Homo sapiens: one gene and its partner. The gene in region 2 interacts genetically with the main gene of each other region. Each region holds a gene or a part of one and is shown on either strand. Other genes may lie near its edges.

What was found. A genetic interaction does not mean that the proteins touch.
Region 1: of BMP7 (region 2) and SMAD1, changing one suppresses a phenotype caused by changing the other (phenotypic suppression), as found in Homo sapiens cells (one study listed by BioGRID).

What each region holds. Positions count from the first base shown.
Region 1 is NC_000004.12:145,484,853-145,488,352, reverse strand, and holds part of SMAD1 (mothers against decapentaplegic homolog 1), read right to left. Parts: intron 1-3,500. UniProt on the Homo sapiens protein: Transcriptional modulator that plays a role in various cellular processes, including embryonic development, cell differentiation, and tissue homeostasis.
Region 2 is NC_000020.11:57,170,448-57,172,641, reverse strand, and holds part of BMP7 (bone morphogenetic protein 7 preproprotein), read left to right. Parts: intron 1-1,533; coding exon 1,534-1,683; 3' UTR 1,684-2,194. UniProt on the Homo sapiens protein: Growth factor of the TGF-beta superfamily that plays important role in various biological processes, including embryogenesis, hematopoiesis, neurogenesis and skeletal morphogenesis.

The DNA.
Region 1 (3,500 bases), on a different chromosome or scaffold from region 2:
TTAAAACTTATGTATAAAAATATATTCTGAATCAACAGAGAGACCCCTCTCTCCTCCTCTTCCCAAACAGGACCTAGTGAATATTCATTTACATCCTGAACTCAAAAGCATATACATGCATAATTAACAATTGTATGTTCTTTCTTCAGATCCAGGCTTATTGTCTCAAAAAAAATATTTGTTAAGAAACCAATCTATACTGCAAACCTAGGTTCTTATTAAAAAAAAAAAAGTTCCTTTTTCAAACACTAAGAACATAAAAGAGATTTGGGAAAATCACCAGGTAAGGACTTCCTCACACCTTAGAGAATTTAATGCTTTATTTTCAAGAGAGAGTCTTCTCTAAAGTTCAGATTTTAGCTTATAACAAAAATTATAAAGATGCTGAACTGTTCAAATACTGTAGTTCCCAGTACCTTACTAAAACTCTGATGTAGTCACTGGAGTGAAACTGCTTATGAAACTTTTGGCTTTTCTTTTCTGAAAGATAGTTTCCTTTATGCAAATGAATGTTCTAGAGAAGCCGCTCATTTCTGCAAGTCAGCCCGCAATAGCTACAGACATTACTGTTTTGCATATAGGACTAGCCCTGCACCTCTAAAACTGACACCATCTTAATAACGCAGAGCAAGATGAGTATTTTAATTTAGATTTTAAGCAATTACATTAATACTATTTGGCTCTGCCTTTTTCTTCTCTTTCCTTTTCTTTTTAAAGGTGGCTACAGCAGAGTGATGAAAATACTTCAGGTATTTTTGCTGCAAATCAGATGCCAGATCAACAGATTAGACTGAATATTTGTACTACCAGATAACAGCAGGAAAGGAAAATAAAGGGTCAAGAGGTTTCAGATTGGGGCAAAGAGGACATGCCCCTATTTGTTATCAAAGTATGTCCTAAAATCTTGGTACCAAAGAGTAAAACCACATATAGAAGTAGCAGAACATTTCATCAACCTCAAAGACATGCTATGACTTAAAACCGATTTTTTCCACTTTTTTATATTTAAATTATCCTTTTTCTCCTCAGACCTGTCCAATTCTCTCCCTAGGACTCCCTAGCTCCCTAAATACCCCAAACTTTAGCTTTTGGTTAGGAATGTGATTTGTTTTCGAGAGTCAAGAGGAGATTCGTATATTTTGCTAGATGTCAGAGTTGCCTGCTTTAATTTGAACTTTGTGCAATCTTGGATCTCCCATTTTCTAATAAGGTCTCATTGATTAAATTAGATATAGGGCTTTTCTTTTCCATCTCCAGAATGAAAAAGAATCAATTTTAATATGTAGAAAATAAGCATTTCTCTCTGGTTGTCAGATTTGATTCCTACTTAGCTCAAACAATGTTAGGTATAAAAAGTTGCTAACAGGCCAAAAAATTCTTTCCTCCCTTCCCTAAATTACACTGGATATGCTTACACCAAAGCCTCAGAAATATCGTGAGCGTGGTAGGGAGAAAAAAAACCTGAAAACAAAAGGGCACTTAATGCCAAGAGGAGTCCAGATCTTGGCTTTCCCTTTTCCAATCACTAGACAGGTAACTTTGGATGTCAGTTACCTTCTCTGGACTTCAGACTGTTCACCTTGATATGAACCAACCAGATTAGAAAATCTTTAAAGCAACTTTTAATACTAAGTATCTCTATTCTCTGTAAAGGAAATTACAAATCTTAATGTTTATGAAAGCACTTGGCAGTCCCATGGACATATTTCACCCGAAAGACCATGAGATTTGGATAGTTAAGTGTACACATTAACTCACCATGACATATAAGCATTTTGGGATAGGAAGGTGGGAATAAGAAGATACAAGATCCATAGTTTCATCGATTCTTAAACAGCCCTGACCTTGTAAAACATTTACAAAAATAGATGTTGAATGTTTTTTTAAAAATCCCCAATGAATTTGCAATTACTATTCTTACAGTGTTTAACAGCTCAGGGAAGATAGACTAATTTTGGTAAGACAGACAAACTGAATTACTACAACTTTCCTCCTAACTTAATATCAGTTTGTGATTATGTAAGAAAATGCAAGAGGAAAGTGACAAGAATTATGCAGAAAAGCAGAGATAAAACTAATTTGGCTTTGAAATGCATTATTTTCATGCCAGATTTATTCTTCAAATTATGTGCTGCTTAGATGAGCATTATTTTTCCTTTCTTAAACACTTACAAAAGAACGACAGAAGATAGCCCAGAAAGGCACAATAGAAGGTAAATTTATTTAAAGACCTACAAAATACACAAGCCAAGTCATGTCTATACTGGCATAGTAAAGCACAGCAGAACAATGATGATTTGGGTCTTCTGAACGAAAGACCAAAAAACATAGTTAAGATGGAGTTTCTAGAGTTGGACTGCCTCGATCATATCCCAGGTAAGATTAGAAATCATAATCATTCACTGTACCTCCTGAAGCAAGATACTGAATCATTCTGTCCTCAGTTTCTTTACCTGTAAAATGTGACAACAATAGTACTTATGGAAGTTTTGAGGCTTAAATGAGATATGGGTATTATAAACAATGCCTGGCATACATACAGTAAAAATTCAGAAAAAAGGGTTAGCTACAATTATTTCTTCTCTCTAAGGCTCTAAACCAAATTAGAATCGATGACACTAATAATAAATAAGATCTACAGAAAAGTCAAACTCCTTTTATCCAGCAGCTTCAACTGTCCCTTCCAAATTGTGTTTTATTTTAAAAAGAACAGCTAGTTAGTGATAAAATTAGTTTATATATGTCTTTCCATCTTTGACTCCACAAATCATTAGTAGAGTTAACAAGTGAGAAGAGGTAAAGGTCCTGGGGCAGCAATGGCTAGCAGAACCTCCTGTGATGATGGAACTATTCTATATACACGCTGTCCAGTATGGCAGCCACTAACCACAAGCAGCTACTAAGCACTTGAAATGCGGCTACTGCTGAGAAAACGAATTTTTATTTAATTTTAATTTAAACTTAAATAGCTATAAGTAGCCGAGTGCAGTGGCTCACACCTGTAACCCCAACACTTTGGGAGGCCGAGGCGGGAGAACAGCTTGAGCCCAGGAGTTCAAGACCAGCCTGGGCAACATGACGAAACCCTGTCTCTACAAGAAATACAAAAACAAATTAGTCAGGCAGACATGGTGGCAGTGCCTGTAGTCCCAGCAACTTGGGAGGCTGAAGTGGGAGGACTGCCTGGGCCTGGGAGGTCGAGGCTGCAGTGAGCCATGATCGTGCCACTGCACTCCAGCCTGGGTAACACAGAGAGACCCTGTCTCAAAAAAATAGAATAATAAAATTTCAAAAAAAGCTACGTGTGACTATGGCTAGGATAGCAGAGCCCTAGATAATCCATAAGCTAAATAAGGATTGTCAGAAACTTAAGCAAAATAAGGATCTTCTTTTCCTGAACTGTTTATATGTTCAATTCAAATATCTTTGTTTCTGGTATAGGCCTGGTAAGTTTGACTAGTTAAAGAAATAACATGTCAGTAGATATCAATACAGTGAAA
Region 2 (2,194 bases):
TAGTGATAAGAGCTGTAGGGATTTTGTTCTTTTGCTTAGAATCCAAGGTTCAAGGACCTTGGTTATGTAGCTCCCTGTCATGAACATCATCTGAGCCTTTCCTGCCTACTGATCATCCACCCTGCCTTGAATGCTTCTAGTGACAGAGAGCTCACTACCAGGACTACTCCCTCCTTTCATTTAGTAATCTGCCTCCTTCTTTTCTTGTCCCTGTCCTGTGTGTTAAGTCCTGGAGAAAAATCTCATCTATCCCTTTCATTTGATTCTGCTCTTTGAGGGCAGGGGTTTTTGTTTCTTTGTTTGTTTTTTTAAGTGTTGGTTTTCCAAAGCCCTTGCTCCCCTCCTCAATTGTAAACTTCAAAGCCCTACTTGGGATTGAAGGTCCTTAGGCTGGAAACAGAAGAGTCCTCCCCAACCTGTTCCCTGGCCTGGATGTGCTGTGCTGTGCCAGTATCCCCTGGAAGGTGCCAGGCATGTCTCCCCGGCTGCCAGGGGACACATCTCTATCCTTCTCCAACCCCTGCCTTCATGGCCCATGGAACAGGAGTGCCATCGCCCTGTGTGCACCTACTTCCATCAGTATTTCACCAGAGATCTGCAGGATCAAAGTGAATTCTCCAGGGATTGTGAAATGATGCGATTGTGGTCATGTTTAAAAGGGGGCAACTGTCTTCTAGAGAGTCCTGATGAAATGCTTCCAGAGGAAATGAGCTGATGGCTGGAATTTGCTTTAAAATCATTCAAGGTGGAGCAGGTGGGGAAGGGTATGGATGTGTAAGAGTTTGAAATTGTCCATCATAAAATGTGTAAAAAGCATGCTGGCCTATGTCAGCAGTCACAGCCTGGAGGCTGTGAACAGAGTGCCAGTCACTGATGCTCTTGCCTGGCACCTACAGTTGCTGGAAACCCAGAAGTTTCACGTTGAAAACAACAGGACAGTGGAATCTCTGGCCTGTCTTGAACACGTGGCAGATCTGCTAACACTGATCTTGGTTGGCTGCCGTCAGCTTAGGTTGAGTGGCGGCCTCTTCCCTTAGTTTGCCTTAGTCCCCACTATTCCCTATTGTCTTACCTCGGTCTATTTTGCTTATCAGTGGCACTCACGTGGCACTCATAGGCATTTGAGTCTATGTGTCCCTGTCCCACATCCTCTGTAAGGTGCAGAGAAGTCCATGAGCAAGATGGAGCACTTCTAGTGGGTCCAAGTCAGGGACACTATTCAGCAATCTACAGTGCACAGGGCAGTTCCCCAACAGAGAATTACCTGGTCCTGAATGTCGGATCTGGCCCCTTCCTTCCCCACTGTATAATGTGAAAACCTCTATGCTTTGGTTCCCTTGTCTGCAAAACAGGGATAATCCCAGAACTGAGTTGTCCATGTAAAGTGCTTAGAACAGGGAGTGCTTGGCTTGGGGAGTGTCACCTGCAGTCATTCATTATGCCCAGACAGGATGTTTCTTTATAGAAACGTGGAGGCCAGTTAGAACGACTCACCGCTTCTCACCACTGCCCATGTTTTGGTGTGTGTTTCAGGTCCACTTCATCAACCCGGAAACGGTGCCCAAGCCCTGCTGTGCGCCCACGCAGCTCAATGCCATCTCCGTCCTCTACTTCGATGACAGCTCCAACGTCATCCTGAAGAAATACAGAAACATGGTGGTCCGGGCCTGTGGCTGCCACTAGCTCCTCCGAGAATTCAGACCCTTTGGGGCCAAGTTTTTCTGGATCCTCCATTGCTCGCCTTGGCCAGGAACCAGCAGACCAACTGCCTTTTGTGAGACCTTCCCCTCCCTATCCCCAACTTTAAAGGTGTGAGAGTATTAGGAAACATGAGCAGCATATGGCTTTTGATCAGTTTTTCAGTGGCAGCATCCAATGAACAAGATCCTACAAGCTGTGCAGGCAAAACCTAGCAGGAAAAAAAAACAACGCATAAAGAAAAATGGCCGGGCCAGGTCATTGGCTGGGAAGTCTCAGCCATGCACGGACTCGTTTCCAGAGGTAATTATGAGCGCCTACCAGCCAGGCCACCCAGCCGTGGGAGGAAGGGGGCGTGGCAAGGGGTGGGCACATTGGTGTCTGTGCGAAAGGAAAATTGACCCGGAAGTTCCTGTAATAAATGTCACAATAAAACGAATGAATGAAAATGGTTAGGACGTTACAGATATATTTTCCTAAACAATTTATCCCCATT